Linked DNA regions of Homo sapiens: region 1 is linked to region 2. Evidence: fine-mapped expression QTL. A gene starts in region 2. The other region holds a variant in brackets. All regions are shown on one strand. Distances are between the middles of the regions.

Region 1 (4,384 bases), 61 kb after region 2:
ACTCCATCTTAAAAATAAAAAAGATGTTTGCATCTGACCTTGGTCCCGCTGTCTCTGACAGGTGTGCACCCTTTGTGTTTCAGCTCCTCAGCCCTGGACCGGGGACAAGTAACCCTCGGTGACAAGACCAAAGTGCACTGCTGCCCACACAGTTCCTACCTTTCTGGCTTCAATTCTTCAGAAGAGTTTGCCGTCCTTTGGGGAGAACGTGATTTTTGTTATCTCAGCCCACTGACTTCATTGATCTCTAATCTTTTTTAATTCCTTGGGCCAACTTTGTTCGTGCCCCCACACTGTAGCCAGAAGCCCGTTGGCGAGCTCTGGCACCTGCAAACCACCCCGTGGAACGAGTGTTTCCTCTGGCTGAGGGTTGGAGAGGAGGTGTGGTCTCAGCAGGCGGCCCGTAGCCTCACAGCCAGGCCTGGTGGTGAGGTCACCATGTCCACCAAGGTGCCCATCTATCTGAAGCGTGGCAGTCGCAAGGGCAAGAAGGAGAAGCTTCGGGACCTGCTGTCCTCGGACATGATCAGCCCACCGCTGGGGGACTTCCGCCACACCATTCATATTGGCAGTGGCGGCGGCAGTGACATGTTTGGCGACATCTCCTTCCTGCAGGGCAAGTTCCACCTCCTGCCGGGGACCATGGTGGAGGGGCCTGAAGAAGATGGCACCTTCGACCTCCCCTTCCAGTTCACCCGCACCGCCACCGTGTGTGGGCGGGAGCTCCCGGACGGCCCATCCCCTCTGCTCAAGAACGCCATCTCCCTCCCGGTTATCGGTGGACCCCAGGCTCTCACCCTGCCCACAGCCCAGGCTCCACCCAAGCCCCCTCGCCTGCACCTGGAGACCCCTCAGCCTTCCCCACAGGAGGGAGGGAGTGTGGACATCTGGAGGATTCCAGAGACTGGCTCCCCCAACAGTGGACTGACCCCGGAGTCAGGGGCCGAGGAGCCCTTCCTGTCCAATGCCAGCTCCCTGCTGTCCCTGCACGTGGACCTGGGGCCTTCCATCCTGGATGATGTCCTGCAGATCATGGATCAGGACCTGGACAGCATGCAGATCCCCACATAGGACACGAGGCTGCCTAGGCTGGGGTCCCAGGTGGGGCCCAGCCAGGAGGTGGGGTGTGGACCCGGCCCTGGCGGCGGAGTCAGGGTCCCAAGATCCCACCTGTATGGTCGCTGGCCAGTGATTCTCCTTCTGAGCCGTGTTTCCCCTCTCCCTCCCTCTCCACGTGGGCAGGGCAGGCCCCATCGCTTTCCTCTGATAACCACATGGACACATCCTGAAGTCAGCCCAGGCGCCCTGAGCATCTTGGGGCACCTGGACCCCATCACAATACTCCTTCTTCCTTCAGGTCCCTGGGTGAAGGCTTTGCTGAAACCGACCCCCCTTTTCACGTCCCTTCTGCCTCTGCCCCGTTGGATGCCCTGACTGGGGGCAGGGGAAGAGACAGGGCACAGCTGGCCACAGGGCTCAGCCACTGAGCAGGCTGTTCCGGGCCTTTGGCTTTGCATCCTGGACGGGGAGTGTCCTGTCAGGGACCAGATGTGTCCTGCCTCATCCCTAGCTCCAATCCCTTCCCCACGTGACCGGGGATTCTGGTTGCAATAAAACATGCTGCTGCTGGTGGCGGAGCTCCCTGTCCCTTTGCCCCAGGTTTCCTCCCGGAGGCAGACAGTCTCCCAGAGCTGAGGGCTTGCCTCTGGAGACCCCAGCCCCAGAGGGCTTTGTGGAGGACAGGCCTTGCCCTCAAGAACGTCGTACCTGACGCTGAGCCTGTCATGAGAATGCAACAGGAGCAAACCAAGTGTTGCTGTGACATTGATTCAGATGTTTGGCAAGAGGTGGCTGAGCACT[G/C]GGGTGGGCTTGGCACTGTGCCAAGCCTGGGGCCAATCCCTGCCCAGTCAGCTGGGGTCTGGTGGGGGACACCCAAGAATAAAAGAATAACCACAAAGTGTGCAAGGGACCAACAGCTTCTCCAGCTTAAGAGCACCGAGGGAGCATGCAGGAGGGATGCTTGGAGCTGGGAGGGTCTAACAGTGCTGCTTCAAGATTCATTCCATCCACGGCTGTTTACTGAGCATCTCCAGTATACAAGGCACGGCTCCGGGTGCTGGGGATACAAGGCAGACGCCATCCCTGCTCTCTAAGAGTTTAAATTCTAGTTGGAAGGGGGATATTAAATTGGTAAACAAATAAGAGATGATTTCCAGCAGTGGTAAAGGCTACGAAGAAAACAACGTGATCAGGAATGCCTAGCAGGGAGGTCAGGGAGTGTCAGGGCTCATTAATGTGATCAGATGTGATTCTGAGCCAAATCGGAGCTACCAGCCAGATAACTCATATGTAAGCACAGGCACTGAGGAACCAGAGTGAAGACAGAGCAGACACCACACAGCAAAAGAGCGTGGACCTCCGAGTTGCACCTGGCCTGAGACTCAGTTTCCCCATCTCTAAAATGGAGCAGGCCAGGCATGGTGGCTCACACCTGTAACCCCAGCACTTTGGGAGGCCAAGGTGGGTGGATCATGAGGTCAGGAGATCGAGACCATCCTGGCCAACATGGTGAAACCCCGTCTCTACTAAAAATACAAAAATTAGCTGGGCATGGTGGCACGTGCCTGTAATCCTAGCTACTAGGGAGGCTGAGGCAGGAGAATCACTTGAACCCGGAAGCTGGAGGTTGCGGTGAGCCGAGATTGCGCTACTCCACTCCAGCCTTGGTGACAGAGTGAGACTCTATCTCAAAAAAAAAAAAAAAAAAAAAAGAGCCACTGATAGCTACCTCACAGGGTTATTGAGAAAACTAGGGATAACATTTATACTAGCCACAGGGAAGGGTTTTTTGTTGTTGTTGTTGTTGTTTTGTTTTGTTTTGTTTTTTTCTGTTGAGACGGAGTCTCACTCTGTTGCTCAGGCCGGAGTGCAATGGCACAGTCTCAGCTAACTAAACTCTGCCTCCCGGGTTCAAGCTACTCTCCTGCCTCAGCCTTCCAGGTAGCTTGGATTACAGGTGCACGCCACCATGCCTGGCTAATTTTTTGTTTTGTTGTCTATTTGTTTGTTTTTTTGTGTGTGACAGAGTCTCACTCTGTCACCTGGGCTAGAGTGCAGTGGCACAATCTCGGCTCACTGCAACCTCCGCTTCCCAGATTCAAGCAATTCTTCTGCCTCAGCCTCTCGAGTAGCTGGGATTGCAGATGCCTGCCACTGCTCCCAGCTAATTTTGTGTATTTTTAGTAGAGACGGGGTTTCACCATGTTGGCCAGGCTGGTCTCGAACTTCTGACCCCAGTTGATCCGCCCGCCTCAGCCTCCCAAAGTGCTGGTATTACAGGCATGAGCCACCATGCCCGTCCAGGAAAGGTGTTACAAATGGTTGCAGTGTGTGATGAAGGAAAGAACTGGGGCTCGGGAAGGGCGGGACTGTGAAGCTGGAACACAGGCTGGCGGCAGCAGGGAAGAGTTTCGCTGGCCAGGCTGACGCTGAGGCGATGGGGTGCTGCTGAAGGACGTGAAAGCAGAAGAGATAGGTGGTCAGATCTAGACCTGAGGAACGACATCACCCACGCCAGGTCGGGGATGGAGGTAGCCATGGCAGGCATGAGCAGGAGGACTGGACCCAGGTGAGGATGGTGGAGACAGAGAGGAGGGGAGTGGCCTAAGGTGGGGCCCGGTGGCCCCTTCTTCCACCCTCAGCCAGTTCTTTTCTACCTGTGTGACCTTGGAATCCCAGACACCCACCACTCCCCCAGCCTTTCACAAACATTACACAGTGTGTGTGTGTGTGTGTGTGTGTGTGTGTGTGTGTGTGTGTGTGTGAGAATGCATTTTTTTATTATTTCTGGACATTTTATTTATTTATTTATTTATTTCGAGACGGAGTCTTGCTCTGTCGCCCAGGCTAGAGTGCAGTGGCACGATCTCAGCTCACTACAACCTCCGCCTCCCAGGTTCAAGCGATTCTCCTGCCTCAGCCTCCCGAGTAGCTGGGATTACAGGTGCCTGCCACCATGCCCGGCTAATTATTTTTGTTTTTGTTTTGAGATGGAGTCTTGCTCTGGTGCCAGGCTGGAGTGCAGTGGCACGATCTGAGCTCACTGCAATCTCCGCCTCCCGGGTTCAAGCGATTCCCCTGCCTCAGCCTCCCGAGTAGTTGAGACTACAGGCATGCACCACCACGCCCAGTTAATTTTTTGTATTTTAGTAGAGACGGGGTTTCACCATCTTGGCCATGTTGTGATCCTCCTGCCTTGGCCTCCCAAAGTGCTGGGATTACAGGTGTGAGCCACCGCACCCGGTGCCCAGCTAATTTTTGTAGGCCAATTTTTGTATTTTTAGTAGAGACAGGATTTTGTCTTGTTGGTCTCGAACTCCTCACC
Region 2 (4,384 bases):
CTTATTAAACAAAGCAGGAAACCTAAAACCCATACAGGAAAAGAATTGCACAGTGTTGTGTGGTAGAAAAAAAAACCCACAAAGTTAAAAGACAGGTTGGGAAAAATATGTATGTAACACATTTGATATCCATTGGTTATTGCTGATGGTGGGAAACTGCAAACATTTTCCGTAAAGAGCCAGAGAGTAAATATTTGAGGCTTAAGGGTGTGAACCCCAAAAGAGGTTCATGATGGATCCGGAGTGGCTAACTAGGCCTAAATTCAAAATACAGCCAAGCAGCCATTGGCTGACTAGAGGTCACACATACTTCGGTTTTTGTTTGCTTTTTTTTTTTTTTAGGCGGAGTCTCGCTCTGTTGCCCAGACTGTAGTGCAGTGGCACAATCTCGACTTACTGCAAGCTCCGCCTCCCGGGTTCACGCCGTTCTCCTGCCTCAGCCTCCCAAGTAGCTGGGACTACAGGTGCTCGCCACCACGCTAGGCTTTCTTTTTTTTTTCTTTTTTTTTTTTTTAGTAGAGACGGGGTTTCACCGTGTTAGCCAGGATGGTCTCGATCTCCTGACCTCGTGATCCTCCCGCCTCGACCTCCCAAAGTGCTGGGATTACAGGCGTGAGCCACCGCACCCGGCCTTTGTTTGCTTTTTGAGACACGATCTTGCTCTGTCGCCCAGGCTGGAGTGCAGTGAGGCGATCATGACTCACTTCAGCCTCGACCTCCCGAACTCAAGCGCTCCTCCAGCCTCAGCCCCCAGAGTGGCTGAGATCACAAGAACCCGCCACCACCGCCCGCTAATTTTTTGTAGAGAAGGGGTTTCGCCACGTTGCCCAGGCCGATCTTGAACTCCTGGGCTCAAGTTAAGGGAGGAGACCACCCCTCATATTGTCTTACGCCCAATTTCTGCCTCCAAAGAAAGAAAAAGTAAAACTAAAAGGCAGAAATGAAATCCACAAGCAGACAGCCCGGCCTCACACCCTAGGCTTGGTAAAGATGGACCCCTGACCTAATCAGTTATGTTATCTATAGATTACAGACACTGTATAGAAAAGCACTGTGAAAATCCCTATCCTGTTTTGTTCTGATCTAATTACTGGTGCATGCAGCCCCCAGTCACGTACCCCCTGCTTGTTCAATTGATCACGACCCTCTCAGGCGCACCCCCTTAGAGTTGTGAGCCCTTAAAAGGGACAGGAATTGCTCATTCGGGGAGCTCGGCTGGTGAGACAGGAGTCTTGCCGATGACCCCAGCCGAATAAACCCCTTCCTTCTTTAACTCGGGTGTCTGAGGAGTTTTGTCTGTGGCTCGTCCTGCTACAAAGTGATCCGCCTGCCTCGGCCTCCCAAATGCTGGGATTACAGGCGTGAGTGACCGCACCTGGCCTGGGATGGACATTTTAAAGGTTCCTGATACATATTGCTAAATTGTTTTCTCGAAACGCTCTATACCATCCCACCAGCATTGTATGACGCCTACGGTTGAGATTTTTGGCTCAAAGAATTACGGTGTATTTCAAGGGGAGAACCCTCTTCTCATCTTACCCCTAAACTCTATCCTTGAGTGACCTACCTTCACTCCCAAGCCTCCAGTCACCCACTGGGAATCTCTACCTGGAAATCCCAGAGGCACTCAAACTTAACGTGTCCAAAACTAAATTATCCGTCACCTTCCCACCTCATATCCCCCCAAATGCCCCAGATTCAGAAAACATACCCATCACTGTGGCTGGCACCACGGTGATAAGCACGATAATAACCATGGCAACCAGATTCCCTACTGAAGCCATTCTTTTAGGATGAACCAAGGGCACAACAGGCAGAGATGACAAGGGGAATGGAGAAGGGGGTACAGTAAGTTTTAGATAGTCGAAGGCACGCGCACGACAACGCCTGCGCACCACGGAACAGGGCAAAAGGGTGACAAACATGCGCCACTGAGTTTTATCGAGCAGCCGATGCCCAGAAAACAGGCATCCGCACACAGACTCAGTTTCCTTGTAGGCAACTCCCGGGCGTTGCGAGTCACAACCGGCATTCTCGCGCCGTGAGAGAGAACTGCGCAGCTGCTGACTGGCGGGCCGCCAGGCGCGTGCGTAGAGACGCCCACACGCCCGCTGATGCGCACGCGCCCTGGGCCGCGCGTGCGCGCGTGGGGTTCCGGAATGAGCCGGGGAAAGCAAGGGGAAGGTTTGGGGTTGGCTCCCGGTTTCGCGCATGCGTGCACTGCACAAACCATTTGGCGGGTTTTTCCGGCCACTCAGTTCTGCCACCGTCACTGAGAAGCTCAGCGGTAGCTTTTGGGAAGCAGGACGTTCTCACCAGGAGAGCGTCCTCTCGAGATTTCTGCTCCCTCCATTCAGGGCGTTTGGGAGCCACCCCTTCATTTTTTAAAAAAAGTATTTCTCTGTGACCGACGGCCGGGGCCTTCTGACGGTCTGAGGTCTTGCTTGGGCCAGTCACCTCCTGTCACGGTCCGCGGAGGGGGGAAGGATAAGAGGGCGAGGAGCTCATCGCTCGCCACCCCCGTGGGCTTCTTGGGCGCAGGTCGGAGCTGGGTGGGCCGGCTCCCCGGCCCCTGGCTTGGGCGACCATGTCCGCATCCGCCCAGCAGCTGGCGGAGGAGCTGCAGATCTTCGGCCTAGACTGCGAGGAGGCTCTAATTGAGAAATGTGAGTCCCGCACCCCTCCCGCCCTGCAGCCGTGCTCCACGCTCTCGCCCGAGTTCCTCGGCGCCTAGAACCGAAAGTGGAGCGCTTCCAATTTCCACTTCCCCTGGAGCAGAGTTCTCGGTGGCTGTGAGATGAAGAATCAAACTTGAGTTTTGAGATTTAGGATGTGGGGACTTTGAAATGCCCACCGGGTACCGCTTGGATGCCAAATCAAAAATAGGAATATGCAGCACGATTTTAAACCAACTCGAAGTTCCCGAAAGGCGGAATTGGGATGTGCTAGATAGAGACTAGGCACTGGTGGCACCTGAGTTTGGAAATTGTTGAAGCCCCGGTAACAAAGCAACAGATGTGGGGGTTTTGAAATGTAGCTTTTTATTCTTGGCTCCTCCCTTTCCAGCCTACACCTTAAACCTCTGCTGATCCATCAGTTATTTTATCATAGCTGTTGGTGGTCTGTGCAAATATGAATCCCTTGAGGTAGGTTCCTAAAATTGAATTTGAGCTGTGGAAGGAGCTTTAGGGAGCTTTACAGATGGAGAAACAGACAAGGAAAGCTAATTGCCTGAGCTGTCTGTGAAGCCAGGTGTCCTGCCTTGGAGTCCCGTGCTGCATCATACGGGTCCATCGTGTTGGTCAAGCTGTAGAGCAGTGTAAGGAGTCATTTGAAGCAAAGCCTGGGAGATGTGGAAGTTCTAGAATCGGTATGAATGTGCACCTGCCTTAACCACTCAACACTTTGAACTTCTTATATACAAAAAGATAACGAAACGTTAATTTATGGTGAGAAATTCCTTTCAGAAACCAGAATACTTCAAGTCTTCATGCCCAGTGCCTTCTCTCTCTCTCTTTTTTTTTTTTTTTTTTTTTGACAGTCTTGTTTTATCACCCAGGCTGGAGTGCAGTGGTGCAATCTCGGCTCACTTCAGCCTCCGCCTCCCAGGTTCAAGCGATTCTCCTGCCTCAGCCTCCCAAGTAGCTGGGATTACAGGCGCCCGCCACCAGGCCCGACTAATTTTTTTTTGTACTTTTAGTAGAGAAGGGGTTTCACCATGTAGGCCAGACTGCTCTCGAACTCCTGACCTCAAGTGATCCACCCACCTTGGCCTTCCAAAGTGCTGGGATTACAGGCATAAGCCAGCAGGCTCGGTCCTTCTCTTTTTAAAAGAAGACTAGCCAGGTGTGGTGGCTCACGCCTGTAATCCCAGCATTTTGGGAGGCCAAGGCAGGTGGATAATCTGAAGTCGAGAATTTGAGACCAGCCTGACCAACATGGAGAAACCCTGTCTCTACTAAAAATACAAAATTAGTCGGGCGTGGTGGCGCATGCCTGTAATCCCAGCTACTCAGGAGGCTGAGGCGGAAGAATCGCTTGAACATGAGAGGCAGAGGTTGTGGTGAGCCGAGATCACACCATTGCACTCTAGCCTGGGCAACAGGAGCGAGACTCTGTCTCAAAAAAAAAAAAAAGACTTAAGTGGAAAACCTGATCATAGTCAGAAATGTATGTGGTAAGCATGAAATCAGCATGAGAGAAATTAGTTATGTGAACCAGATTTGTAAAGGCTTCAGGCCAAGATGCCAGTTGCTTTCATCTCATGGCAATGGCTTTGGAATTGTGGACTTTGGATCATCAGTAACTTCAGTGGCACCTTAATGTTTCCTGACAGTCAACCGTATTTCCCTGTTTTTTTTGTTGTTGTTTGTTTTGTTTTTTG

Alleles and levels. Alleles are on the strand shown, and positions count from the first base shown. SD is a standard deviation of normalised expression in the study named.
With allele C in place of G in region 1, the expression in spinal cord of the gene that starts at base 2,257 in region 2 is lower (moderate effect, 0.42 SD a copy in GTEx).

The links. PIP is the estimated chance that this variant, and not a neighbour inherited with it, causes the effect. A credible set is the group of variants that fine-mapping cannot tell apart.
Region 1: its variant is the best candidate, but not a certain one, in a credible set for the expression of POLA2 in spinal cord (GTEx, PIP 0.67).

The regions. Positions count from the first base shown.
Region 1 is chr11:65,320,461-65,324,844 of GRCh38, forward strand. CDC42EP2 (CDC42 effector protein 2) reads left to right here. Exons shown (of 2, transcript NM_006779.4): 2 at 84-1,957. The coding sequence starts at 439. The coding sequence ends at 1,071. It overlaps LOC124902691 (a long non-coding RNA gene), which reads left to right and starts at 3,285. Exons shown (of 2, transcript XR_007062728.1): 1 at 3,285-3,628. The variant G/C (reference allele first, on the strand shown) is at 1,861.
Region 2 is chr11:65,259,706-65,264,089 of GRCh38, forward strand. POLA2 (DNA polymerase alpha 2, accessory subunit) reads left to right here and starts at 2,257. Exons shown (of 18, transcript NM_002689.4): 1 at 2,257-2,666. The coding sequence starts at 2,588. RefSeq lists enhancers at 1,395-2,282, 2,277-2,526, 2,283-3,168.